Homo sapiens: one gene and its partners. The protein of the gene in region 2 interacts with the protein of the main gene of each other region in a biochemical or structural test. Each region holds a gene or a part of one and is shown on either strand. Other genes may lie near its edges.

What was found.
Region 1: the proteins of PKP4 (region 2) and GRID2IP interact in a test that uses a peptide from one of them, tested with the Homo sapiens proteins (one large-scale study listed by IntAct).
Region 3: the proteins of PKP4 (region 2) and PDLIM1 interact in a test that uses a peptide from one of them, tested with the Homo sapiens proteins (one large-scale study listed by IntAct).
Region 4: the proteins of PKP4 (region 2) and DLG1 interact in a test that uses a peptide from one of them, tested with the Homo sapiens proteins (2 studies listed by IntAct, with this or other methods).
Region 5: the proteins of PKP4 (region 2) and FRMPD2 interact in a test that uses a peptide from one of them, tested with the Homo sapiens proteins (one large-scale study listed by IntAct).
Region 6: the proteins of PKP4 (region 2) and LIN7A interact in a test that uses a peptide from one of them, tested with the Homo sapiens proteins (one large-scale study listed by IntAct).
Region 7: the proteins of PKP4 (region 2) and LIN7C interact in a test that uses a peptide from one of them, tested with the Homo sapiens proteins (one large-scale study listed by IntAct).

Annotation. Positions count from the first base shown.
Region 1 is NC_000007.14:6,509,573-6,513,470, reverse strand, and holds part of GRID2IP (delphilin), read left to right. Parts: intron 1-2,431; coding exon 2,432-2,563; intron 2,564-2,764; coding exon 2,765-2,862; intron 2,863-3,070; coding exon 3,071-3,188; intron 3,189-3,318; exon of another isoform or gene 3,319-3,455; intron 3,456-3,898.
Region 2 is NC_000002.12:158,662,844-158,666,933, forward strand, and holds part of PKP4 (plakophilin-4), read left to right. Parts: intron 1-53; coding exon 54-245; intron 246-428; coding exon 429-602; intron 603-3,004; exon of another isoform or gene 3,005-3,238; intron 3,239-3,569; coding exon 3,570-3,720; coding exon of another isoform or gene 3,721-3,734; exon of another isoform or gene 3,735-3,821; intron 3,822-4,090. UniProt on the Homo sapiens protein: Plays a role as a regulator of Rho activity during cytokinesis. May play a role in junctional plaques.
Region 3 is NC_000010.11:95,270,503-95,274,592, reverse strand, and holds part of PDLIM1 (PDZ and LIM domain protein 1), read left to right. Parts: intron 1-2,808; coding exon 2,809-2,960; intron 2,961-4,090. UniProt on the Homo sapiens protein: Cytoskeletal protein that may act as an adapter that brings other proteins (like kinases) to the cytoskeleton. Involved in assembly, disassembly and directioning of stress fibers in fibroblasts.
Region 4 is NC_000003.12:197,137,756-197,141,845, forward strand, and holds part of DLG1 (disks large homolog 1), read right to left. Parts: intron 2,510-4,090; coding exon 2,385-2,509; intron 637-2,384; coding exon 467-636; intron 1-466. UniProt on the Homo sapiens protein: Essential multidomain scaffolding protein required for normal development. Recruits channels, receptors and signaling molecules to discrete plasma membrane domains in polarized cells.
Region 5 is NC_000010.11:48,155,780-48,160,004, forward strand, and holds the end of FRMPD2 (FERM and PDZ domain-containing protein 2), read right to left. Parts: intron 1,592-4,225; coding exon 1,543-1,591; 3' UTR 783-1,542; downstream 1-782.
Region 6 is NC_000012.12:80,847,051-80,851,140, forward strand, and holds part of LIN7A (protein lin-7 homolog A), read right to left. Parts: intron 1,273-4,090; coding exon 1,201-1,272; intron 1,126-1,200; exon of another isoform or gene 1,049-1,125; intron 1-1,048. UniProt on the Homo sapiens protein: Plays a role in establishing and maintaining the asymmetric distribution of channels and receptors at the plasma membrane of polarized cells.
Region 7 is NC_000011.10:27,499,825-27,503,914, reverse strand, and holds part of LIN7C (protein lin-7 homolog C), read left to right. Parts: intron 1-1,994; coding exon 1,995-2,113; intron 2,114-2,348; coding exon 2,349-2,420; intron 2,421-4,090. UniProt on the Homo sapiens protein: Plays a role in establishing and maintaining the asymmetric distribution of channels and receptors at the plasma membrane of polarized cells.

The DNA of each region.
Region 1 (3,898 bases), on a different chromosome or scaffold from region 2:
AGGTGGAAGCATCACTTGAGCTCAGGAGCTCAAGATTAGCCTGGGCAACATAGCAAGAGCCTGTCTCTACCAAAAAAAAAAAAAGTTTTAATTTAGCCAGGTGTGATGCACACCTGTAGTCCCGGCTACTTAGGAGGCTGAGGTGGGAAGATGGCTTGAGTGCAGGAGATCAAGGCTGCAGTGAGCTATGATCAAGCTACTGCCTCCAGAAAAAAAAAAAGGAAAGAAAAAAAGAAAAAAGAAAGAAACTCACGTGGTTGCCAGACATGCCAACACCACCACCAGGATCATGAGCACACGACCACATCCCACCTGGCTGGTGGGCTCCCAGTGTACTCTTTCTTGCACACACACAGGCCTGCAGTGCCATGTGTGGCTGCCACCTGTCTGTTCAGCGTGCCCTCCGAATGCCCACAAACCCCTGCACTCAGCATGCAGGTCATGTGGATGGAAGGTGTGCCGAAGCCTGTGTTCTACCCTGTTCTAGGCATCCTGCACCTGCTATGAAAGCCGCTGCAGGTGCAGTGGTTCACTCTTGTAATCCCAGCACTTTGGTAGGCTGAGGTGGGTGGATCACTTGAGGTCAGGAGTTCCAAGTCCAGCTTGGGCAACACAACAAGACCCCCATATATTCAAAATATTTAAAAATCAGCCAGGGGTGGCCGTGCGCGGTGACTCACGTCTGTAATCCCAGCACTTTGTGGAGCTGAGGCAGGCCAATCACGTGAGGTCAGGAGTTCGAGACAAGCCTGGCCAACATGGGGAAACCTCATCTGTACTAAAAATACAAAAATAAGCCAGGTGTGGTGGTACGCAGTTGTAATTCCAACTACTCGGGAGGCTGAGGCAGGAGAATTGCTTGAACCTGGGAGACGGAGGTTGCAGTGAGCTGAGATCGCACCACTACACTCCAACCTGGGCAACACGGTGAGACTCCATCTCAAAGAAAAAAAAAATAAAAAATTAGCCAGGCGTGGTGGTATGCACCTGTAGTCCCAGCTACTTGGGAGGATGAGGTGGGAGGAGCACTTGAGCTCAGGAGTTGGAGACCAGCCTGGGCAACATAGCAAAAAAATTTGAAATTAGCTGGGTGTGGTGGCACACACCTGTAATCCCAGCTGCAGGGGAGGCTCAGGCAGGAGGATCTGTTGAGCCTGGGATTCAAGGCTGCACTGAGCCTTGATTGCACTCCAGCCTGGGGGACAGAGTGAGACCTGTCACAAAAAAAAAAAAAAAAAAGAAGAAAAGAAAAAAAGGCAGGTGTGGTGGCTCACATCTGTAATCCCAGCACTTTCAGAGGCTGAGGCAGGTGGATCACCTGAGGTTAGGAGTTGAAGACCAGCCTGTCCAATATGGTGAAACCCCATCTCTGCTTAAAAAAAAAAAATACAAAAATTTAGCCAGGCATGGTGGTGCATGCCTGTGGTCCCAGCTACTTGGGAAGCTGAGGCTCGAGAATCATTTGAACCTGGGAGGTGGAGGTTGCAGTGAGCTGAGATTGTGCCACTGCACTCCAACCTGGATGAGAAAGCCAGACTCTGAATAAATAAAGAGAGAAAGAGAGAAAGAGACAGAGAGAGAGAAAAGAGAGAAAGAGAGAAAGTGAGAGAAGGAAGAGAAGGAAGGAAAGGAAAGGAAGGAAAGGGAAGGGGCCGCTGCAGAGTTGCTGGTCCTTGTGTGCCCATGAGCTGCAGTCCCAGGGACCCACAATTTGCTAGGGTTTTAGCGAGAAGCTCAGGATCCATGCTGGACCACACATGCCTTACATATCTGCGTAGGCTCAAAAAACTTCTATTTTGGCCGGGAGCAGTGGCTCACACCTGTAATCCCAGCACTTTGGGAGGCCGAGGCAGGCGGATCACCTGAGGTCAGGAACTTGAGACCAGCCTAGCCCACATGTTGAAACCATATCTCTACTAAAAATACAAAAATTAGCCAGGCATGGTGACGGACACCTGTAATCCCAGCTACTTGGGAGGCTGAGGCAGGAGAATCGCTTGAACCTGGGAGGTGGAGGTTGCAGTGAGCTGAGATTGCACCACTGCACTCCCACCTGGGCAACAAGAGCAAAACTCAGTCTCAAAAAAAAAACACTTCTATTTTGCCCATAATCCTCTCTGGGCAGCAGTGACTTGGCCTGGGGCAAGCACAGGGCGTTGAGACTCTGGAAGCTGTTGTCATGAGATCTCTGCTAGGCCCCTGAGTTCAGGCTAGCTGCATTCTGGTGCTGCATTCTGGTGCTGCTCCTGGCACCTGGTTTCTTGCCCTGGGGCTTCCCCTCAAGAGCTGTTCTGGAGGCAAGCAGGGCAGGCCCCGTAGCTTGGGGTCTGCATATTGGTGCAGATGACATCTGCCCTCCCCTCCCTGTTTTGGAGGTCCCTTGTCTGGCTGAGAGGGCAAGAGGGCCCCATGTTCCCTGCATGTCCCACAGCAGAGCCGGAGCCTGAGCTGGACCTGGAGTCCGAGCCCACGCCTGAGCCCCAGCCGCGGAGCTCCCTGCGGGCTTCCTCCATGTGCCGCCGCAGCCTCCGGTCCCAGGGCCTGGAGGCCGGCCTCAGCTGCGGTAAGGCTGGTGTCAGGGGGAGGGTATGAATGGAGCTCAGTTTTCCCACCTGCAAAATGGGCTTGGTGAGGTGGGGAATCCCAGGGAATGGGGCTAAGCAGGGCTCAGGATTGGCCCTCCTGGGTCTGCGGGGCATGTTGGTTCTGGGCCGGGGCCTGAGCCGTAGAGCTCAGATACGGTAATGACATTATTCCCCGGTAGGTCCCAGCGAGTGCCCTGAGATGCCTCTTCCCCTGATCCCAGGCGAGCGCCAGGCAGGCGACGGCACGTCCCTCCCTGAGACCCCCAACCCCAAGATGGTGAGACCTTCTCTGCCCTCCACGTGGGGTCAGTAGGGGGCAGGGAATGGACGGTCCATAGGACTGGGCCCAGGAGACCCAGGCCAAGGCGTCCCTGTGCTGCTTCAGGCTGGGGCATATCCCTGCCTCCCGGCCCACCCAGGCCTGGACCACATTAGGGCTACGAGGGGAAGCAGAATGGGCTGGACTCTCCCCCGTCTCCCTCCAGATGTCAGCCGTCTATGCAGAGCTTGAGTCTCGACTGAACAGCAGCTTCAAAGGGAAGATGGGGACCGTGTCCAAATCCCGGGCTTCCCCTCCAGGCCCCAGCCCAGCAGTCACCACAGGTAGGGCTCCAGCCTCTGTCATCTACTGTCTGGGTGTTTCCCTCCACCCCAGGCTCAGCCCTGGAGCTGCTTCTCTGCTCCATCAGGGTCAGGGTTGTCCCAGTCCCTCCCATGGCCCTGTGACCCTCACCTCAGCTGTGGATCAAGAAAGTAGCCTGGGTACCGTGGGTCGTGCCTGTAATCCCAGCACTTTGGGAGGCCGAGGCAGGAGGATCAATGGAGCCCAGGAGTTTGAGACCAGCCTGGCAACATAGTGAGGCCCCATCTCTAACAAAAAAAATACAAAATTAGCTGGGCATGGTTGCATATGCCTGTAGTCCCAACTCCTCAAGAGGCTGAGGCGGGAGGATCACTTGAGCCCAGGAGTTCAAGGCTGCAGTGAGCTATTTCGAACCACTGCACTCTAGCCTATAAGCAACAGAGTAAGACCCTGTCTTAAAAAAGAAAAAGAAAGAAGGCAGATGCCTGATTCTGAGGAAGTCCCCGAGTTAGCAAGTGGTTATTGGATAAATGATCAAGTGCAACGCGTTGTACCAGCGTTGGCACAGCTGGGAAGACAGTTGCTCTGCAGCTCAGAAGGCAGGAGCCCTGGGAGGCCCTCCTGTGATCTCAGGGCTTGCTGGGTGCGCGAGACGCTCCATGACTGTGGCTCTGGGCCCTAGAGAAACCCCTCCACCCTTTGAGTTAATGGTGTTCAGTGGCTCCCAGCT
Region 2 (4,090 bases):
TTTTGCTCTAATGTGCCGAGTTGTTTTTAATTATACGCCATGCTGGGTTTCAGACGGTGGAGAACTGCGTGTGCACCCTGAGGAACCTGTCCTATCGGCTGGAGCTGGAGGTGCCCCAGGCCCGGTTACTGGGACTGAACGAATTGGATGACTTACTAGGAAAAGAGTCTCCCAGCAAAGACTCTGAGCCAAGTTGCTGGGGGAAGAAGAAGAAAAAGAAAAAGAGGACTCCGCAAGAAGATCAAGTTAGCATTTTATTTTATATGAGACTCTCAAGTTTAATTTTTCTGGGAGTGAGGAATCACATATTTGGCAAGAAAATAAATTTTCTGCATAGCTATAGCTGAGTCCCGCAAAGGTGAATGTTTTCAAGTATTGGAGATCATGTTCATTCTGCCTCCATTTAACGTGTGCTGTTTGTCTTTCAGTGGGATGGAGTTGGTCCTATCCCAGGACTGTCGAAGTCCCCCAAAGGGGTTGAGATGCTGTGGCACCCATCGGTGGTAAAACCATATCTGACTCTTCTAGCAGAAAGTTCCAACCCAGCCACCTTGGAAGGCTCTGCAGGGTCTCTCCAGAACCTCTCTGCTGGCAACTGGAAGGTAGGATGACTTCCACTTATCTACACTTCTTTCCATCTTTGCAAACTAACTTGAAATGTTATATATATATGTTCTGCCTCAGTCAGATCAGCCCTGATGGTGAAAGGGTCACAGCTACTTAGCTTGTGTGTGAAGGGGTTAAAGGGAAAAAAGGGAGACAAGCAGTTGCTCTGGGGATACAAAGATAAATACAAGTCCCTCACTATGAGAAACAGAAGGCTAGTGAGAAAAACAGATGGTGCCAGCACAGTGTAGAAGCCACAGGATGTATGTGCTGTGGGGTCCTGAAAGAAGACATCTAACCCAGCCACACAGTGTAAGGGAAGGTCAGGAAAAGAGCGGAGTAAGGACGTGGAGGAGATTTCCTGAAGGGGATGCTGCCCGGCAGAATCTCTGAAGATGAGTGAAAGTAAGCCTGTAGAGGCTGAGGCTGTGGTATGGAAGGAGCCATCCAGATAACAGGGACAACAGGAGGAGGACAGTCTTGTGGTGCAGAGAAGACGTGTGGGCCAGGACTACTGGCTGCCCACTGGGGCCCACCATGGAGCCAGGCATCATGGATAGGCCTGAAGGCCAAACTTCAGGAGCTGAATCCTAACCTACACACAGGAGGGACTACCGAAAGAGTCTGGGCAGATGAGTGACAGAGACGGGCTAATATCATCACTGCTCCCCCACTTCCATGGCAGTGCAAAAGGTGGATTCGAGGAAGGGAGAGTTAGAAGCAGGGATTGGATTTGGGAGCCAGTGCAGCAATACAAAGGTGAGAAATCTTGAGTGGCAGGACAGAACACAGGTTGGGCAGCACTGTGGGGAGGGATAGAGGACCTCTGTTCCTCTCAGACCGTTACAGACATGCCTGTGTCTAAGGTTTCTGCATCTTTTTGCAAATGTATGAGTATGAAAACTGAAGACAGTTTCCTTTTGTTACCACTGTAAGCAAGTTCTCAGAACTTTCTAAATGTCCCCCAGCAACTTCCCAGACAGTCCTTGTCTGAGACATTTTCAACCTCTAGTAATTTCTTGACAGGTGTATTTTAGTAGAGTTACTACAATGCTTGCTGTGGGCTTCTTCCCCCACCTTAACCCCCCAAAATGAGAATCTTTTGGTGATGGTGTTTTCAAGATAGTGAAAAGCATTGATAAGCCTAGGTATGGTTTGTTTCGTGCACGTGGCCACTATGTTGAATATAGAGCGATAACTATGGTCTAGTGCTAAGCCGGTGTGGTTATTTTGTTGTGGCTCCTAGTTAAAGTGCCAGTGACTGAGTGTGTAAGTGCTGGCTCTGAATCCAGGCCACTCTGCTTACCGTCTGGCAGCCTAGGGGCTCTGCCCACAGTTTCCACCTCCCTAAAATAAAGTGAATATTAATACCTGCCTTATAAAGTGGTTATGAGGATTTAGTGAGATACTCCCAGCACATAAGTATTTATAAACATTTATGTTGTAGAACAGCGTTCACCTTCAGCTTCTGTGACCAGAGGATCATTTGATGATAATAAAAGACAGTAATTGAAATCGATGTGATTTGACTTATTTAGAAGTTCATGTCTGGGATCATTTAGTGAGAGAGTTAGATGGCAAAGCTCATTTAAAATATAAACATTATATCTAAGCGATTTCAATAGTGAGTTAAAATATTGGACCTTCACTAAGAAAATGAGATAATCGTGGCCACAGATGTTATCAAGTAAGAAGCTATTTCAGGAGCAGTGATGACTGTAGTTCTCCAGAAGGGAGACGGGCTGGGCTGGGCTGGGCTGGTAGGTCTCCAAGTGAGACAGAAGGAGATGGTTCTGTTGTTGCAGGTTTCAGAGAGAAGTTCATAAAACTGCCTGAGTGCTTTGCCTAGTAACCAGTCATGTACTTCATTTTCCCCCCATAGATTTCATGTGATTTGAAAAATAGGAGTATGCATTTCATATGCAGAATATAAATAGGATCTTTGAAATGCATCTTTCCCTCTTATTTGTATTATTAAAATATTCTGTTGGTATTCAAGAAACTGGATGGTCAATCACATATTTTAATGTTCGAAATAATACAAAGGGCTGGTAGATCTCTGTCCTACTGTCTTGGTCACAGCAGGAAAGTATATGTTTTATGAGCAGCATCTTTCAATTACCCTAAAATTTGAAAGATGATTTGCATTGGTTGAAAAAGTCAATTAAAGCTCAAAGCTGGAAACAAGATTAAAGAACCGTTTTCTAACGTTACTCTTTTTGGTTGTTTCACTGATGACTTAGCGCTCATTTCCATTTTATAAGATATACAAACTGACTCACAGTACAGAGTTGCTTCATAGTCACAGAAAAATTTCTTGACTATGGATTTTTAAAAAACAGCATCAGCAGCTAACTAATCTTGAGTGAGAATGCATTTTGCACACAAATATACTTACTTTTTCACCAGGCTGTATGAATTATGATGCTGGATGTTTCTGGAGATTTCCCTTTCTTCTGAGGCAAGGGATTTTTCCAACTAATCTCTTTGACAGGTTTCTGAACTCGAAATATTGTTGCAGGGAATATAGAAAAAAAATGACTTGATGGAGACAGGTTCTCCTTTCATGTGTGCTGATGGGTTACTGTCTCTGCCATCCTATTTATAGCCTCTGGGTTTGGCAGGGGACCAACTGCAAAGAAAACACACGATCCTTCCTTAATCATGTTTATGTATCTGAGATAGAAAGTAATCACTGCCTTCTCTTTTCTGCACAAAAATATCTGGCAGATGGTGGTTTGAGATTTTCAGGCTTTGGGATTTCTTTTTAAATCAGTCATTCCAGCCTATCTTTCTCCCCAACTTTGGTTTTCTCTTCACTGACACCACAGATTTGATCTTCAATTGGAAAGAAACCATTTAATCTATTAGTTCATCTTTTGGAAACATCTTTTTTAGGTGACAGTAACATATGAGACTGGAACTCTGTTTTATGTTACTTCCTGCCTTATTTTTCTCACTAGTTTGCAGCATATATCCGGGCGGCCGTCCGAAAAGAAAAGGGGCTCCCCATCCTTGTGGAGCTTCTGAGAATGGATAACGATAGAGTTGTTTCTTCCGTGGCAACAGCCTTGAGGAATATGGCACTAGATGTTCGCAACAAGGAGCTCATAGGTATGTTCTGGTGACAAGATGAGCTGTAAATGTGAGAGCAGCTACAAAATTCATGAAACTCTTCTTTTGATTAATAAATATATGGCTTGTAAAATCATTAACAGCTGAGCCCTAGTCTCCAGTTTCTTGGCATATTTGAGTACTCCTGTTTTGTGACCATTCTTTTTCAGCAGGAGGCAAGCTCATTAATTAGTCATTGATTAGGGAAGGTAAATTTTCAGAAAGGCCAGCAATTTTAGTTGTACCTTACAACACTAGTAGGGTTAATGTCTCTCATTTCTAAGAGAGTTCTCTATATCCTGAGCAACAAAAAATCTTAATCTCCCTTTCCAATTTTTGGACTGCTACCTGCTAATTCACCAACACTACC
Region 3 (4,090 bases), on a different chromosome or scaffold from region 2:
GGGCATGGTGGCTCACGCCTGTAATCCCAGCACTTTGGGAGGCCGAGGTGGGTGGATCACCTGAGGTCAGGAGTTCGAGACCAGCCTGGCCAACATGGTGAAAAAACCCCATCTCTTCTAAAAATACAAAAAATTAGCTGGGCATGGTGGTGCAGCCTGTAATCCCAGCTACTCAGGAGGCTGAGACAGGAGAATCGCTTGAACCCGGGAGGTGGAGGTTGCAGTGAGCCGAGACTGCGCCACTGTACACCAACCTGGTCAACAAGAGCGAAACTCCGTCTCAAAAAAAAAAAAAAAAAGGATGACTGTGGGGGTATAGCTTAGATTGGAGGTGAAGGAAGGCCTCTTTGAGAAGAAGGGTTGTTTACACAGACACTTGGAAGATGAGAAGTTAATCAGGCAGAGGTAAAGGCAGGTGTGAAAGTCCTGAGGCCCTGTAGCTGGAGCCCAGTGGGGAAGAGGCATGATGTGGGTGGGGAGGGAGGCACTGGCTTTAGCGGCCTTGTTAAAGATTTTGGATTTCATCCTAAGGGGACTGCTCTTTGAAACTGCTAGATTTAGCTATGATAAATGAGTTCCATAAGGCATTATTCTCCTTGATTCAGGCTGCTCTCCTTGGAGTTAGAGTTTGTCAGTCAAGAACGCTTGCCAATCCCAAATAAAATGATGCTTAGAGCCGTTTAAAAACTGAGCCTGCGTTGTCCTTTAGTAACAGTGAAGTGTGTATGAAGATGCACCAGATCAGTCTTCTCAGGACAACAGGTCAGAAAACGGAGGAATTTTTTTTTATTGCATGCACTGGATGACTCAGAAGCTAACTCTCATTGTTGACTGAAATGAGAGCGGCCTGTGCTTGCCTGGATAAAAAGTCCTGTCCCAGTGGCTGGATGAGGGGACGATCTGAACCTTGAATCAGGAGGCTGCTTTCGTTTCCTAAAACCCAGATCTCTGGTAAACAAATGATGGGAGAGCCAGAAAGGAAGGTTAGGAGGTCAGGATCTCGGTACTGGTTTCCACATCCTGCCACATTCCAGGAGAGTTTTGCCTGATAAAGTCATAGCATGTGCGGGCCAGAAGGGACCTCAAGGATCAACTTGTCCTCATTTTTTGGGGTCAGGGTGCTGATGGGGAATGCACCATAATAGCGGCACCACACTAGCTGCGCTGAGGGCTAATCGGAAACTGTAGCTGCTGAAAACTGCATCAGATACTGAGGTTTAGGACCCAACTTGTGTGTCCTGGTTTGGTGCCTTGAAGAACCTGTTACCTGTGGTTCAGCCATAAGGAGACACCCAGGTGTTCATAAGATCTTCCTCAACTGGATCCCGAGAGTCAAGGGCCTTCTCCAAAGGGTGGCCAGAGCCCTGTGGGCACTGGGAGCCTGGGGGTGTTACTGCCACCTTGATCCTGCGGACTTGGAATTCCCATCCAGGAAGGTCTTGTAATGTGGAAAAAAAAAGTTGTGAACTTACCCTGGGATGATGACAGTAATATTTTTAGTATACCTTAGTTTAGAAAATCTAACCAGATACCTTGGTTAGAGATAGTACTCTGAGGTGAGTACTATTTCAAAATGAGTTTGGATCTTGTTCATTCTAATAGCATCTGTATTCACTTGAAAAATGGTTGTACATCAGTGTAGGAGATGTGATATGTATTGAGTCCGCATGTATTGCTCTGTAGGCAGGTGAATTTAAGGACCTATTGCAGTAATTGATTGGCTTCCCCCAAGCATCAATGATCTGTCAATTTGGAACCACTGGTTTTAGAAGCATCAGTCTGCAGAAAACCAGCCGTCTATAGGGAATGACCCTAGTCATTTTGGGAGATTAAACCAGTATAAACCTATACTACCATACTTTAGGATATCCTTGATTGCTTTTAACAATTTTTTTTTAAATTTTTATTTTATTATTATTATTATTTTTTGAGACGAAATCTCACTCTGTTGCCCAGGCTGGAGTACAGAGGCATGATCTTGGCTCACTGCAACCTCCACCTTCTGGGTTCAAGTGATCCTCCTGCCTCAGCCTCCTGAATAGCTGAGATCACACCCGGCTAATTTTTTTGTATTTTTGTTAGAGACAGGGTTTCACCATGCTGGCCAGGCTGGTCTCAAACTCGTGGCCTCAGGTGATCCGCCTGCCTTGGCCTCCCAAAGTGCTGGGATTACAGGCATGAGCCACCATGCCTGGTCAACAATTTTTTAAATTAAAAAGTAATTCAATATTATTGTAAAAAACATTGCAAAACTGTATAACTGTGAACAATTTAGTGTGCAGTGTTTCCACTTTCTTTTGTATATATAACATTATTAAGATTTTTAAAGAAATAGGGTATTATAGTATATAATGTTCTCTAAATGTGTGTGTGTGTGTTTTTTTAAATGTAATTGTTAACTAATTTTAAGGAAGCAAACGTGGTTCAGTGGGAAGGACATCAGATCTGTTCGGGGTTTGTTTCCTGGCTCAGTAATACACTAGTTGGAGGACCAGTAATATAATAATATACTAGTTGGGTGATCCTGGGTAAGTCATAGGTCTTTCTAAGCCTCAGATCCTGGTCTTGGAAATGGGGACTGCTATTTGTCCTCCTTTCTCATAAGGTTGCTATAGGGATACAATGAGATCATATTAGAAAAGCCCTCTTTGTCAATGATAATATAAATGATTGTTATTATTTAAGCTATGATTTCAGCCCTCTTTTCTTTTTCAGGGCTTTGCTCCATATCAGTGAATACTTAACTTGGTGGTAACTTAGTGGTTTGGAGACAAATAGTAACTAGCCTGCTTTCCCCTTTTTTTCTAGGTCACTCCTGGAAGCAAGGCGGCTCTAGCTAATTTATGTATTGGAGATGTAATCACAGCCATTGATGGGGAAAATACTAGCAATATGACACACTTGGAAGCTCAGAACAGAATCAAAGGCTGCACAGACAACTTGACTCTCACTGTAGCCAGGTGAAGCCTATGGAAACGTTTTGTTCATTTCTGATTGACTAGAAGCTGTTTGTGGGCAGGGACTGCCTTCCCTATCTCAGAATCCCCCAGACCTCCTAGCTCAGTGCCATGTATATACTATAGGCATGCCAAAAGGTCTGTGGAATTTGAACTTCAGATTGCTTATTTCCCCTCTATTTTTTTTTTTTTTTTTTTTGAGACGGAGTCTCACTCTGTTGCCCAGGCTGGAGTGCAGTGGTGCAATCTCAGCTCACTGCAACCTCTGCCTCCCGGGTTCAAGTGACTCTCCTGCCTTAGCCTCCTGAGTAGCTGGGATTACAGATGTGCACCACCACACCCAGCAAATTTTTGTATTTTTAGTAGAGATGGGGTTTCACCATGTTGGCCAGGCTGGCCTCGAACTCCTGACCTCAGGTGATCCACCTGCCTTGGCCTCCCAAAGTGCTAGGATTACAGGTGTGAGCCACCGTGCCCAGCCCCCCTCTGATTTTCACGGTGCTTATGATGTGGGCTTCTTTCAGTAAGATACTTGCATTTTCACTTGATCCAACTCAACCAAAATTTTGAGTAAGTAAAATGTCCTGGCCAGGTGCGGTGGCTCTCTTTGTAATCCCAGCACTTTGGGAGGCCGAGGCAGACAAATCACTTGAGGTCTGGAGTTTGAGACCAGCCTGGCCAACATGGTGAAACCCTATCTCCACTAAAAATTAAAAAATTAGCCAGGTGTGGTAGCGTGCACCTGTAGTTCCAGCTACTCGGGAGGCCGAGGCAGGAGAATCACTTGAACCCAGGAGGCAGAGTTTGCAGTGAGCTGAGATGGCGTCACTGCACTCCAGCCTGGGCGACAGAGCGAAACTCCATCTCAAAAAAAAAAATGTCCTTAGGATGCTGCTGCTACTGCATTGTGCTGAGCAGTGGGTACCATGCCAGGAGATTGCAATAACAGAGAAAAACTTGAACACATTAGCAGCAGAGTACTGAGTGTAACTTTAGGTACATGACAAGCAAGGAGCGCTGGGGATAAAAGAATGAATGAGGGTAGCACCTTGGGAGCTGTAATTAGGGTAGAATTTCCATTCTTCTTTCATTTAGCCTTGGAAGGGGTCCCGCAAAGGCAGGATTTCGGAAGT
Region 4 (4,090 bases), on a different chromosome or scaffold from region 2:
GCCCAGGAGTTTGAGACCAGCCTAGGCAATGCAGGGAGGCCTCCGTCTCTACAAAAAATAAAAAAAATCAGCCCAGTGTGGTGGTGTGTGCATGCAGTCCAAGCTACTTGGGAGGGTGAGGTGGGAGGATCGCTTGAGCTCAGGAGGCTGAGGCTGCAGTAAGCCATGACTGCACCACTGGACTCCAGCCAGGGTGACAGGGCAAAACCCTGCCTCAAAAAAACAAACAAAAAAACCCCGCAAAAAAAGGAACTTTTCAAATGCTGCAATCTTGGTAGAAATGTAAATATTCTAAAATGCTACGTAAGACAAAAATCAGTAGAAATAACGGAGAAATTAAAATCCACTCAAGTTCTGTAGAATATTACTAATACTGTACTTGGAATGTATGTCACAGATAAAGTTCATAGGTATATTTAACTCAGAGATTTCTTAAAGATTTATCTTAGTTTGACTTACCACATACCTTTAGGACCTTTAATGAGCTTTATTTCCATTATTTTTTCTGACACTGGTTTCCTTCTTTTTACATACAAGCGTACAATAGACCCTGCTTCTTTCAACGCTTCAACTGCTTTGCTATGTGTTACATCACGAACATCTACTTCATTTACTCGTAATATACAGTCATTGACCCTGAGAAAACAATTAAATATTAAAAATAAAAATTAAATATAATTTAAATATAAATTTTCCACTTTACCAATTTTTTGTTACTTCTTTTTTAAGGTAAAGAGAATTATAAATAATTCTGGAGTAATTCCAGAAAACATAAATGAAGAAAGTATATCAAAAACTAATATAAACAAATACAAACATTTCCCAAGGGCCAGCAAAAGGAACAAAAGAAATAGTGAAAATAATAGATTATATAAAAATGTTAAATAATAATTACAGCTACCATTTGCATACTTCCTGCATGCTTATTCTGTGTAGGCATTAAGACACACTTTATAAAAATAGCAAACATTTATTTAGCACTAACCACATGCCAGGCACTTTCTTGGTATTTTAACCCTCATGACACCTGTAAGCTTAATATATATTTTAATCCCTATTTCACAGATGGAGAAACTGAGGCACAAAGAATGTAAATAACTTTCCTAAGGCCACCCAGATAATAAGTGACAGAGCTGTGATTCAAAGATAAGAAAACTGAGGCTCACATCACGAGTTTAAGGTCACAGAGATAGTGTGAAAACTGAGATAAAGTAAAAATAATTTTCTGAGTGCCTATTCCAACCTATATATTAGACATAAAACAATTAAGTTATTTTTTGAAATTTATATAAAGATTAGGTCACTTAATTCAAAGGTTTCGTAGGTAAAGAACTTATAATTTGCCATGGTGTTATGTTTTTTAAAAGTCTGATTTGTTCCTAGTCTTAGCCTTTTCCCTAGTTCTGGTCTCTTTGATTGCATGGTATTCCACCAGGAAAAAAAGATGGTCATCTCAAATTGGGTAGAGAGGGTAAACAAAACATAATTAAAATATTAAAACTGGTCCTGACAAGCTTCTATATCTAACAGAATCAGGAAGTAAATGTCTACATTTACATGAATGGTCAAATGATTAATTTTTATATCTATTTGATTTCATTAATATACCACCTGTCATACCCAGTGAGAATTATAAAGCTTAGAAATTCAAAAACTGCGTAAGGCATCAACGTCCTTAAAATAAGATGCTGTTTTTAACAGACTACATAAACTCTTTAGTCCTAAAACTTCAGGGTATTTGAACAACAAACAAGGAAATAGGAAAAATGACATAATTTATGACCCTCAAAAAATCAAAGTTTGCAAAATATATCTTCCAAAATGGAACACTAAATTTAAACAGAGACAAATGTTATTTTCATCTAGTCAATAAGAAAATATATTATTTAAAGTTTGCATATAGTCTTTGTGGTGTGGGATTCAACATGGATGTGTGATCCTCTATCCTCCGTATCTTAAATAAGTTTATATACATGTTTCCCAGCCAGAGAGGAAATGGAAAATATTCTGTGAGTGTACTTAAATAAGTTTATACACATGTTTCCCAGCCAGAGAGGAAATGGAAAATATTCTGTGAGTGTATCTGAAAACACAAAGGGAAACTCATGATTTCTATAAATATGCTCACAAAGATTTAAACCATCAACCAAATTTGTTATTCAAAATGTTATAATATCTAAGATAAAACTGGAGTCTAAATGAAAACAGGAACACAATGCTTAGAGCATAATTATCTCATTCATTGACTTGAATGTTGTTAAAGCATCTACCCTATGCTAGTTATCATGATCGTGTTTGTTATTTGTATTTATCCCTTATCCAGTCTGCTTCAAGAAAAATACACAAAGTGGATTCAGCATCACAATAAAAAGCGCAAAACATACCGCAATCTTCCATCTTGGGCGGCTGCTCCCCCTGTGATAATTTTGGTAATGAAAATACTTGAGTCATCTCCAATGTGTGGGTTGTCCGTACCTCCTGCAATGCTGAAACCAAGCCCTGAATTTCCCTGAGGATAGAAGAAAAAAAATTGAGACTGAATATGATTTATCTTTATGGACAGGTTCCTGTCATTAAAGGACGCAGAAACTGTACTAACATAAGGAACACAACAAATAAAGGTATATGGGTGAGTAATATAAAGATTCTAAATTAAATGGACTTGTTCTGGAGGAAAGTCCTTTCAGAGGCATTACTGCTGAACAGGTGAGGTTCAAGAAAATACACCAAGGACTTTTGAAGTATACTCCACAGTTCTTTCTTTAAAAGTATGTGCAACTTGTCGTTGGATTAGTCACCCATCTGCAGAGGTGTCACTGTAAGTCTGTTTCTTTTAGACTGCACCTCAGCCATGTTTGGTAGGGCACATCTCTCCTAAGAGACAAATGCTGAAGTGATCTTCCCGCTGTTATTTCTGAGTAGGCAAAACCCATATACTGTTTTAGCCTTTAAAAAAGGGGGTGGCGATGGTGCTTTTCTTCTGCTAACTTGACATCAGCTTATTTTTAAATGACCAAATTGTGGCTGCTAAGTGATAGCTGCCATCAGTCCCTGACATGTTTAACCAATATACCCGATTAGCAAAAGGCATTGTTTCACACTGACTGAAAGACCAACCTGAGAACTTAACATTGGTGAATTTTCTTGACAGCAAAGTAAATTTTGCCAAAGCAGCTCTACTTTTTGCTTGTTTTATGAACTGGAGAAACAAGATTTCTGAATATGTTCTTCACAGAAAGGGTTCGACTGCTACAAAAAGCCTTTAAAAATAATTGATTTAACCAATGGTATTAAAAAATGTTTATTTCTTGAAGAATGTTCTAACTGAATTTCAGGCAACTCAAGTAAGCAAATATATGTGGACCTATCATTTAACTGTTAGTATTAAACAGTGTAAACACCCACTCTACCACCATTTGTCTTAAAATTCTATTTTAATAAAAAAATGTTTTTCAATCTAACTTCATGAATTACCTGAATCTTAAGAACAGTACCAGTGGATTATGGGAGGTTACCAAATTACTTAGGTACTCAAGTTCTTCAACCAGTGAAAAATACAATGTATAGTCCTAACTAAACAAAAGGAATTTAAAAGGCCCTGGGAAAAGATAAAAAATCAATAATATAAAAAGTTAGGAGACATCACAAACTACTATATTAAAGTATGTACAGTACATTAATACTGTGCTTACTTGAATATTACTCCAGTAGCCACCCAACTTGAGCAAGTGATCCGAATTTAAGTAGATGGCAATAAAGATATACATGTAAGAGACTCTCTCAGATTTATTTTTCTCAGATTCTATTCCAATATAAATAAATCTAATTATCTAGGATTTCAGTCTTGAGTATACACACATTTAGTTACTTAAGAAATCTGCTTGTGTGAAACACTAGATTTCCATAAAATGCTAGCCAGATAAGGTGGCATTACTATTATAACATACAATAAAAACTGAATGCAGATATTCTTTTTTCTTTTTTTTAGACAGAGTCTCACTCTGTCACCCAGGCTAGAGTGCGATCTCGGCTCACTGCAACCTCTGACTCCTGGGTTCAAGTGATTCTCCTGATTCGAGTAGCTGGGATT
Region 5 (4,225 bases), on a different chromosome or scaffold from region 2:
GAACCGATCAGGTTTGAATTCTAGTTCTGTCACTTACTTATTGGATAACCTTGGGAAAGCCCCAAATGTGTCATGTGTGAAATGGGGGTGATGACAGTCCCCATGTTGTAGGTCGTTGTCATGGTGCAAGGGCCATGGTAAGTGTTCTGTGAAAATGGCCATTACAATGACGCATGACCCCCAAAGAAGATGCAGGGGAAACTGGGCAATGCCCACAGACCATCCCCCACCCCCAGTTGAAGTGGCTTGATAGCACTGAGCCCTGCTCTGGTCAGAGCTCAGCCCCAGTCCACCCAGCCAGAGTGATACCCACCTGAGGGCACCGTATTCCAGGGCCACAGGCTCCTCCAGGTCTTCCCATTCACTCCCACTCTCTGGGGACTCTTCTGGAGGCAAAGACTCTGGGACAGTGCCCCAAGAGCAGAACTGTGGCAAGGGAATGGTCCCAGAATCTGCCTCCAAACATTCTTCACAGGGTAGCTGGCCTTGGCATGTAGAGTTGATGGTAAGATACTCTTCATCCTCCGAGGTGGGAGAAGGGGCTCCACATGGATGGTACATGTCACCTTCCCCATCCTCCCCATCCAATTCAGGACTAGAATACAGAAGCCCATGTTTCTTCCAGCCTTGATAAAAAAAATTCCTCACCCCACCTTCCCCTTGCCTTTTAGAATACTCTGCACGACACAGGCCCGTGAGACTCAGCCAGTGTTCAAACAGCTCATGCCAGAGGCTGCTCTGGGCACCAGGAAGCAAGAAACTTATAAGGCACCAACCCTGGCTTTGAGGAGCCCCCAATTTAATGAGAAGTTGGAGCAGTAAAGAAATGTTACAGTCCATGTAGGAAGTGCTATGATAGAAGCAGCTGGAGCACCTTACCGAGCTCAGGAGACCGGGGGGATGGGGGGGCTTGCCAGAGGGCACAGCATTGCAAGCAGGGCAATGACCCAGTTCTAAGACAGACTCGTCACATGGCAAGCAGAGTCGGTCAGACTTTGGACAAGTTTATTGACTTCTTTGGAACCTCAGTTTTCTCATTTGACAAAACTAGATGGTCAAGAAGCGTCTAGGATTATTGGGACACGTAAATTACATAATTCTGACACAGCCCCCCCAACTCTGGGTTCCTGGTATGGGGTAAGTTTTTAGTAAATGTGAGATGCTGTGATTAGTACTGTGAATATGATGGCTATTTCAACAGAAGAATTATAAAGAAAGGGCTTCAGGAAGGGATTGGGAGTGACTCAAGCAGGCAACCATCAAAGCACTTTGTGCAAAGATCAGGTCCTTTTCTGAGCACTGAAAATTTGCCTATTTAGAGATGCGGCAAGCTGAAGTGACATTTACTCCCCGCGGAAGGACACAGGAGGCAGACGAGTGGTGAAGCTCATTATCTGGTGATGCAGCCGCAGACGTAATGGTCAAAGAACAAGACTTCCAGGGGCTGCCCCAAGTTCGCCACACACGCCTCTTGATTAGAAAGAATAGTCCATGCAAAGGTAGGGCATTTTACACAGCACTGCAGACATGCAGAGAAGGTGCTCAGAAAATATCTGTCGAAAGTCTGGTTAGAGGAGATGAGAAGGAATATCTAAGAGAAAAGCACAAAGATTTAGCAAATACATGGATCCTCATTTCTCAGCCTCCTTACCCCCACCCAAATCAATGGGTTGGCTTTATTATGTGCTGCTGCTCTCCTTCTCCTTTCCTGCATTGCCTCTTTCTCTTAAAATTGGCTCTGGTGCACCCCAATAGCTACAAACCCTTAGATACCCAGAGAGCACGTCCTCCTCCCCAGTAGAGCCGGAAGCATCTGTCCCAAACTGAGCTTCACTGTGAAAGAGACATTATTTCCACTCATGAGAGCTACAAGGTATGTGAAATAGTGAATTTCATGTAAATATATGCACACTCAAGTGTATAAAAAAGAAATTATTCTACAAAGACTGAAGAGGAACACTCACTGTCAAAAGACATTTTTAATTCTTGAGCATTTGCAGGGAAAATTGACTTTAAGCTTGGCTAAATCATGTAGAAACTGTGTTTTCTTATAAACATGGGAAAGAAACATTCAAGAAGTTTTATCAAAGAATGGGAAATCTAGCCTATTGCCCAGGCCTAGGCTCACCACTGTCCCCACCACCTCAAGCAGCACCCCCTTCCCTCCGTTCTGAGCTCACTAAGCCTTGTTGAGGAGTGGAAGATGGCAGCTGTGTGTGTCCATTGGCCACTGCAGCTGCCTCAGTGTCCACACCTCACCTCCCACCCGTAGACTCCCTCCACCTCTTCTAATAAGCTCCTTGCCCTCTGGTTTTGATTCGGAGCTCCAGCTACTGGCTCTGCCTGGACAGAGACCTAGGGAAGCCATCAGCCTGAGAGGCAAGAGGCAAGGCTTCATCTGAGGTTCAACCAAAGAAAAAGCGATTTGCTCCCCACTTGTCCAGGGGGACTTGGTGGTCCCAAGGGTGAAATCTTGGCCATCATCCCACCACAAGTTGGGAGAACGACTGCCTTTCCTTCTATCCTTTTGCACGTGCCATCAGGCTGCCCTTGGAGATTTGACCTGGGGCTCAACTGTGGACATAGGGAAAGGGTGAATAGGGAATAAAGAGGCACCAGAAGCCTGTATGCCTATTTCACGGAAAGGGCAAGACTTGGAAATTTGGAGAATTTCATTAAGATAGAGACATTCTTTCACAGCAAGCCTCATGTTTTGCATGTGGACATGATGGGTAAAGAGGTGGAGTTCTTCACCCAGGGTTCAAGGCCGGCCAGCTCATGGCTAATGTAGCAGGACTTTCAGCAAGACCCTGATGCTGTCGGAGTACACGGGGCTCTCTGCTCACCCCCTGATTCTGTGTAATGATCTCAGCTTCTTCCTGCCCTCACTCTCTGCCCACCAAGCTGTCCAACAGAAGGAGGCTTTTATAGACAGATGATAACTAGAGGAGAATCTGGAGATTTCACGTGGGCTTCCTGGCCAGCCATGTCTCCCATACAAACCAGCAGGACCCCAGAACCAGGGTCCCCACCAAGTCCTGAAACTCTTCAGTGGGTATTTTTAAGAGGAATCCCAGTTCAGCTCTGAAGTCAGTGAAACCATTCTGAAGGCTCTGCTTGCTACAGAATGTTTACTGAGAAAAGACACTGTGCCCAACTTTTCTGGACAGCTGTCCTTTAAAGACTTGGGCCACCAAATTCATCTCTGCCTTTCAGGAGGAAATTCATAGAAGCAGATTGGGCATTTCAGGCTTGAAATATGAAGGTATTATAATTGTCCTATTTACTTACGGTTAAACTCACAACAAAGTTTGGGGTTTGTGTCCCTTCATGTCTCCAGTTCTCCAACATCAGGCCCCATATTGAGGTCTCCATTAGCCCTGATGACACAGCTGGGAGCCCCAGGTCTCTGCTCCTGACAACTGCATTTAGTTTTGGCAGGTTGGATTTACAGTATCTCTAAGACATCAAAGTAAACAAGTTCAACGGACTGCCAGATTTGAAGCTCAGATGATAAATCTGAGCTGAAGTACAATACTTAGGATTTGTCACAGTAGTGTGGACAGATACCCCTGGGTATCTGGGGATACCCAAGGATAGCCCTGGGAGCCTGTAAGGTGTAAAGAGAATCCTGCTAGAGGCAGCACCCAGGATCCAGCCCAGGCTCTGCTGCCTCCCTCACTCCCCTCAGCCACACTCCAACCCAAGAGCAGGCATGACATCTCCCTCACCTGGCAACTGCATCCCTCCCTAACTACTCTGACATCACACCTGGCCTGGCCCCTGCAGTTGAGTGAGATCTCTGGCCTCCTAATTATCTTTTGCTATTCCAGGCAGTGCCCTTCCCCAGAAGGTATATCATAACTTTAGGTTCATTTCCAGGAGTCCTGCTTTATTTTGCTTTCTTAAATAAATGACCATCAAGATTTATACCATCACTTTCACAAAGTGATGCTTGTTGAACTTACGTGCATTTTACTTACATGAGTTTAATGATATGTGCTAGGCAAAAAGAGAAAGAGAAAGATAACCTTAAACATTCTGCAAAGACCAACTTTCCAACCGATAAGTGTAAGCCTTGAAGTGCACATGAGTGGGAGAACTAAATCTTTCATCCTCTCAATCTGTCTCTGTTTCTATTGGGCCAGCATTTAAAGACAAACATTTTGCATACAGCATGGCCCATAAATGCAAGCCTCCTAACTTCATCTGAGGCTCGACCAAA
Region 6 (4,090 bases), on a different chromosome or scaffold from region 2:
TGACATGAAAACAATGGCTTGTTTTTAGCTACATGCATTTGCTCATGCAAACCTCATTGTCATGCATAGATTTTAATGGCTGACATGGATGCAATGCAGACAGCCCAGAAACAACCAGAAAATACTGTGCTATTGCAACATTATGCTGCTATCCTGCTGTTCTACATGAATAAGAAATGAGAATGGTAAAACACTACACAATTCACTTTCCCCTTAATTAAACCACGTAGGGATCATTTTTCTGTGTGTGTTCCACTTCAGTACAAGCAAAGCATGACATGATGATAATAACACCCTCTTTTTTTCCCTGAGTTTAAACAAAACAAAACAAAACAAAAAAACCTTACAAATCTACAGTGTTCAGTTACAGAGTAAAAACTAAAAAATCAAGAGAGAAACTAAACAAGCGTTGATGTAACACAAAATAATTAAATGGAAAATTCTACTCATTTTCAATGGTTATTTCTTATACATTATTAGAAAAATAAAGTATTTTTAAAAGCAAGTCATGTTTCTATTATAACATTTGTGTGTTTGTAAAAGAAGAGCTGCATCAGTGATTTTAGTTTAAAATTGGTATTTCCTAATGGCCTATTTTCCTGATAATTTCCTGATGTTATCGGTATAACATTTCCATTAGTAGGGTCTCTACAGTCTCTGGATTTGAGTCTTTAAAGGGCAGATGTGGTCACTACCACAAAAGGTGACAGGCGTTTTCTATAAGGTCTATGCCACATCCTTTCAGCAAGTTACCCACTGCTCAGCTGAATACACAGAAGTATCCTAGATCAGTGGGTGTCAGGTGAATTCTTTTCCTGTCTATTTGAAATCAAATCTTTAGACCGGTGCAAATAAATCTTCATGCACTGAATATGATACAGGTTCTTTCAGATCAGAAGAATGTGTCTGAAAATCATATAGTATTTCACACAATGAACCAGTAGATTTGCTTGTGCCAAATGGACATTAAGTGAGTTTAATGAAATCATTCTCCTTTCTTAAGCTACAGAAGCAGCAGAAACGTTCAATTTTCCATTAGGATTTTTACCTGAGAAGTAGTACTGGTTCTAGACTCTGGGCTGCCACTGATGTCTAAATTCTCTTACAGTGTACACACGAGAATACCTGAAACACACACGCGCACAATCAATTACTAGATAACTGGGGTCAAGTATATTTTTAAAGTTACTCAAGCCTTACCTTTGCTGTTGCCCTCGCACGGAATTCGGGACAGCCATTAACAGTTATCGTTTCATGCATATATTGATACACCTAAAATGTTCACATAAAAAGAAGAATGTGTAAGAACATGAAGAATAATAATTCTTTTATTGCAGAAAGAAAATTATATTTTCACTGTAGGAAAAAAATTCTCTATTGCAAAATAACATAGGTCTGATGTTTGGGAATGTACCTGATAGCACTCCTTAAACAGCAGATATTATTACTCATTGTGATTTTAGATACAATTACAGAAATCATTAAAATGTAGTAGAAAAAAATTGTTTCTTATAAACTTCCAGGGATGGGATTATAAAATCTTTGTATCTATGGTAAAATAAATTGCTTAAACTAAAGTACAGAAAAAAAAAAACTTAAAGGATGCCTTGAGGAAGATGTTTGGAAAAAAGTAACAAGGTTAAATGTGTTGGACTATATGTTCATTTTGGATTTAAATAGTATACGTAAAAATTTATTGCATAATGCATAGCAATAAAAGTCCATTTGGTACTAGGCTAGAGTATTTTTGGGGAGTGATCCATTAGCTATTTCAGTAAAAAAGGAAAGGGAAAAACTGCAATCGAAGGTTGAAAGGTTTTTTTCTTCCTTTATATTAATCTTATTTTACATGCTTAACTCAAAAATTAAATAAGTGAATCCAACATTTGATTAATTCACCCATTCAACAACTATTTGTTGAGTGTCTGGGACTAATCTCTTCCCTGCATTTTTGACTGGCTCATAATTTCTCAAATACATTTGGTTGAATCTCCACTAACGCTGACTCATCTTTCCCAGGTGACATGGTTAGAAGGAAATTGACAAAGTAGTCTGTACTAAAAAGGCAACAGTGCAATTCAGAATCTAACTTTTAGCTCTGAATCTCCACTTAACAATTATGAGGTGTTCAATTTCTATGGGAAATCTGAATGGAGACAGGAACAAGTTTCCAGAAGATCATTTATGGAATCTGAGATATGTTACTGCAAATTCTCCAGGTTACCTGAACAGCTGCTAAACGTACTTCCAGATTATTTCCTTGGAAATGCATTATTTTGTTTCATAGAGACAGCCTTTCCAAAAATAAATTATACTATTTGCTCTAATAGCCCATTTCAGAGGAGGATTTTCCCTGCCCTGCTTCTCTTGTAATAAACTCTCTCAAATCTGACCCTTCATTCCACCCTAGCTCATTATCTCTTGCTGCAAGCATTGCATTAGTGACTTAATTGGGTCTCCCTGCCATCAAACCATATACACTTTGGTGATCATCAAGTACCTACCTGACCATGTCCCTGCTGTGCTCTTGGCTGTCTGCTGCCCTTACTGCAAAGGTGATAAGGGCAAATACCTACAGGAGTCAAGCCACAGATAATAATGCAGAACTCAGCCTTCTCTCTAGTTTTATTTTCCTGTTTTCTTTTCTCCACCCCCACCATTCCTCAAACATATTGAACTCTCCAAGTTACCTAGGTCTCTGCACATGCCGTTTACTCTGCTAGGAATGCCCTTCCACCTGGCAGACTCTTATTCATCCAAATTTAATATGATGATAAAAGGTCAAATTCAAATATTGTCTCCTCTATTAAATGTTTTCTGCCTCCCTCAAGCAGAGTGAGTCTCTCCACAGTTCCTGGTCATCTGAATTTGTTTGAAGTTATTTTGGTTAACATTGCCAGGGAAAGTGACTTTGCCTGCATCCAAGGATGTTTATGAAGACAATCATTTAGCAAATAATTGGAATATTGTCATCAATTGAATAAAACAAAAGGTGATTTTGTAAGTGCTGGAGATAAATACCTGTACCTAATAAATATCACAAATTAAGAATAATTAGCCTTAAGACCCCAAATTGATTTTGAATTAGAAAGTGGTATATTCAAGGAGCAATACTGTGTAGTAGATAATTTCACAGACTCTGAAGATGGCTTGGAAGCAAACCGTAGCTGTACCATTTAATTGTATGATGTTTGTCAGTCACTTGATTTCTCTGATCCTCAATTTCCTCATTTTAAAAATGTGCCTTAAAATAGTAAGTAACTTCTAGGTCTGTTATGAGGATTAAATAAGATAAGAACAATTTGCCATGTTTAGTATGTTTCCAAAAGTTAGCTATCATTGTTATGCTGTTGCTGGCATTTGATGTTTCTCATCTTATTTGACCATGGATCTTTTGGGGAAAATCTCCTAAGATGAGCAGTTCGTGAACACTGTTTACATAGAATTGATCAAGGGCTGTAGTTCTCAACTGGGGACAATGTTGCCCTTCAGGAGACATTTGGCAATGTCTGGAGGCATTTTTGGTTGTCATAAATGGGATGCTACTGCATCTAGCATGTGGTGGCCAAGGATGCTGCTAAATTCCTACAATGCACAGTGAAGCCTCACAGAACAAAGAATTATCTGCCAAAATGTCAATAGGGCTGAGATTGAGAAATCCTGATCTAAGGAATTAAGCTATACCTTTTCTTCGTACGTGCAATGATTGGTAAGCTGTAAAAACAGACTTGGATAGCACTGAGTAAAGGCTCTTGTAAAACATTCAATAAATATTTGTTGGAGTAAATTACCATAATTCTGGTATATATTTAATGAGAAATCACCATGGGCCAAATGTAATGCTAACCATTTTATATCCATGAGCTCGGTTAATTCTCCTAACTTCTTATTTGGGCACTCTACACACAAAGACACTGAGTCACAGAGGTGGGAACATACCGATGACCACACAGCTAATTTGTTGCAGATTTGATACAGCAACTCATCTCTATCTCCCTTCAAAATCTTTCCTCTTTCAACCGTATCAGACTTTCTTATATTAAAACAGCATCAGATCATTACTATTTTGGCAGTATCAGTGTGAACAAAA
Region 7 (4,090 bases), on a different chromosome or scaffold from region 2:
ACCCTGGAGGCAGAGGTTGCAGTGAGCCAAGATCGTACCACTGCACCCCAGCCTCAGCAACAGAGGGAGACTCCATCTCAAATAAATAAATAAATAATCTTTCTGCCAGGTGTGATGGCCCAAGCCTGTAATCCCAGCACCTTGGGAAGCTGAGGTGGGTGGATCATGAAGTCAGGAGTTTGAGGCCAGCCTGACCAACAGGGTGAAACCCTGTCTCTACTAAAAATACAAAAATTAGCCGAGCATGGTGGTGGACTCCTGTAATCCCAGCTACTCAGGAGGCTGAGGCAGGAGACTTGCTTGAACCTGGGAGGCAGAGGTTGCAGTGAGTGGAGATTGCGCCACTGCACTCCAGCCTGGGCAACAGAGTGAGACTCCATCTCAAATAAATAAATAAATATCTTTCTTTACTACATTTATTCATAGTTTTCTATCTGCAAACACGAAGAAGGCCATACTAACTCTATAAAGAAAAATTTCCAGTCCTTGAGTGTAACGAAATCAGGAACTTCTACTTAAGTCAAAAGGAAGCAAAGCAATAATAGAATACTGGGCATTGTAGTACCAGGGGTACAAAAACAGTATACCAAAACAGTTTTTGGAAAAATAAAAGTAGAGATAGTTAACAGTGTTATAGCTGACTTCCTGAATCTTCTAAAATGTCTCAATTCATAAAACACTTATCCTCACACTTCTCAGTGAGAATTCCCTAATGTGCTTCATACATTTGTATAAATGTATACAACCTCTTAGGGTTTTTTTTGTTTGTTTGTTTGTTTTTGTTTTGTTTGGTTTTTTGTAGATGGAGTTTCACTCTTGTCACCCAGGCTGGAGTGCAGTGGCACAATCTCAGCTCACTGCAACCTCCACCTCCTGGGATCAAGCGCTTCTCCTGCCTCGGCCTCCCAAGTAGCTGGGATTACAGGCACCCGCCACCATGCCTGGCTAATTTTTGTATTTTTTTTAGTAGAGTTGGGGTTTCACCATGTTGGCCAGGCTGGTCTTGAACTCTTGACCTCAGGTGATCCACCCGCCTCGGCCTCCCAAAGTGCTGGGATTACAGGCATAAGCCACTATTCCCAGCCAATATTTCTTATGATTAATTGGTACCAATGTAACATAACACTTTTGCTTGCTAAGCCCTTTTTTATGTATTTTGTGGTTCAGTTGTTAACTGAACTCATAACTCTTCCTCATAACCCTTATATGGAAGGTACTGTTATTTCCATTGTACAGTGAAAGAAACTGAGACATAAGGACATCATGTAACTTGCCCAAGGTCACACAGGTGGTATTGAGACCAGATTGATAAAGCTAATTGTTTTTATTTTTCTTTTTTGTAAACATAAGTGTTGGAGCTTGTTTGAATTAACAGTGTTAATTAAGTTGAAAAAAAATCAGTTTATTTCATTTGTACTGCTTGTTTTTTGCATTTTTATGGTTGTTTTAAATGTGTCCCTGCCACTAACTGCATCTGCTCTCGAGTGGTTATCTACCTATGTATCATGTTTCTTTCGAGGAATGACCAGTGATTTTACTAGCTTATAGTGCCTTGTACTGTTCAGTGCTTTGGTTACTAATAATAATTAGGTAAATTTTTATTGACTAGTTTCTGACAATATTGCTAGCTTTTCTGAAGCAGTACAATGTTCATGTATCGGTCACATTTGAGTCACAGTCCTTTCCGATGACATTTGGTATTTTGTGTTCAATTTGCCTGTGTTTCTCCAAGGTCTTATTTTATGCTTCTGTAATCTCAGTAGTTTTTCCTATCTACTGTAAAATTTAGTGTTCTTACATTTTACATTCTCACCCTCCATGTGTGTACACACACACAGTCTCCTTCCCACCAAATGTGCAAATTCAATGCTTTTTTTCCCCTCGATTGTCTGTATATTATTTGCCCTTGAGGAATGAATCCTAACTGCCCCACTGTTACATAGGCATTGAGAAAACCCTTGGAGAAAATTATCTGTGTGTGTGTTTAACTCTAGATATTTGTAGAGCAATTGAATTATTGGAAAAACTACAAAGGAGTGGAGAAGTACCACCACAGAAACTTCAGGCTTTGCAAAGAGTCCTTCAAAGTGAATTCTGCAATGCTGTGAGAGAGGTGAGTAAACATCATTAAAATTTACAAAAATTTGAGTTAATTAGGTCAGATAATACTCTAAATTTGGGTTCAACATTTCTTAAGAAAAACTTTAGAAAACATTAAAACCAGTCCCTCTCATTTTTGGAATTTCTGATAAAACCATTTTATAAAGATGCATAACTTTGCCTGAAATTTTAACTTCACAGAGAACTCAAGCATGGTATATTCTGAGATATAACTTTGGCTTTTACAGGTATATGAACATGTCTATGAGACTGTGGACATCAGTAGCAGTCCTGAAGTGAGAGCGAACGCTACTGCAAAGGTAAATTTTTTTGTTTTCCAAAAGTAAGAATTCTTCATAAATTAGAAGTTTAAAATATGGAGTTATTAAATTCATAATAAACTTACTTTGAAGACTAACATGTATCTTTCAAGCTACACCAAATTTCTCAAGTACTAAGAAATAAGACATTTGTTTCTATTGCCTTTACATAAATGCTGCATGATAAATAGCTTACATAAGCTATTTTATCATGCAGTTTAGATAATGCAATAGAAATGTACTTGCATACAATATGTATCATGCAATATATAATTGTGTTGTATATGTTATATATATGATACTATATAATATTCATTATACAAAATCTAATCAGAATTTTAAGATATGAATTACTATCCTCATCTTATTGATGAGGAAGCATGAGGTGATTTGCCGCAAACCACACAAATAGCATATGATAGAGCTGGGGTACTTCCCCGAGTTGATTTTTGCTTTCTTCTTTACATTATCTGCATTTCTGTGCCATTGTTTTCCTCAAATAATTTAGGTATTGACCTCACTATTCATGATAGGGGGTTTGAACAGGGTAATATCAGCAGTCGGTGACTTAAATTAATCATCAGCAGATAGTTTTTTATGGATAGTTACTGGCTCACAAAAGGAAATGGTGGATTCTTTGTTGAATACAAATACTTAAACATGTGGATATAGTTTATCAGTGTAGAAAAGACCAGAGAAACATGGTTTTAATTGCTGAGTTGTGTGAGTTTGATAGCCTACTGAATTTCTGAGCCTTAATTCCATTATCTGAAAAATGAGGCCTTTTTCAGAGCTTCGAAGATAACGGGTATTCAGTAAATCTTGATTTCTTCAAAGATAACGGGTGTTCAGTAAATCTTGATTTCTTTCCTCCTCCCCATTTTTGTGATCCATCACAAAAAAATGGTACTAGATAATTACCCTTTAAAGCAAAGTGAAACAAAATCTCAACTTTATAATTAGTTTGGATTAGTCTAAAGTTGAGCTTTAAAGAAGATACGGCTCTGTTTCATCTTCTGTGGGGATTTTTAGTTGTGTCTAGTTAACTAAAGCAACAAAACATTCAGATTGGCTATATGTACCTCTCTTTTTCTCAATATTGAGTTATTTCTTGACATCTTAGATATTTAGTATATAGTACAAATAGTACAGAAGCCAAAATGATTACATATAAGGGCAACTCCATGTTGATTATATAGGTAGGTTGTGTCCTGCACAAAGGCTCCTGAAGGAGTTGGGAGATCCAGATCTAAAGCCCAGGGCTGCTAGCATGCTGGGGAAGGGGTTTTCCTCCTTACCATGTACAATATCAGTCTGCCCAGTAAGTCTGCTTGCCAAGCCCTGCGCATACAGGACTGCACAAAAGAGTGGGCACTGAATGGGCTAGGAATGACCTAAAAAATCATAACAAAAAATCGTAACATTTCCTGCATAACTCGAAATTATTCATTTGTCGTCTCTAAAATACCTTCTGTTTAGCTTACCTTCTCAGAATCACCAGTGAATTTGTGAGCATTCAGACGTCAAAAATACGTGCTCAAAAGTAGTTTTTAAAAAGAGACAAAAGAGGCCAGGCGCAGTGGCTCACGCCTGTAATCCCAGCACTTTGGGAGGCCAAGGCGGGCGGATCACGAGGTCAGGAGATCGAGACCATCCTGGCTAATGTGGTG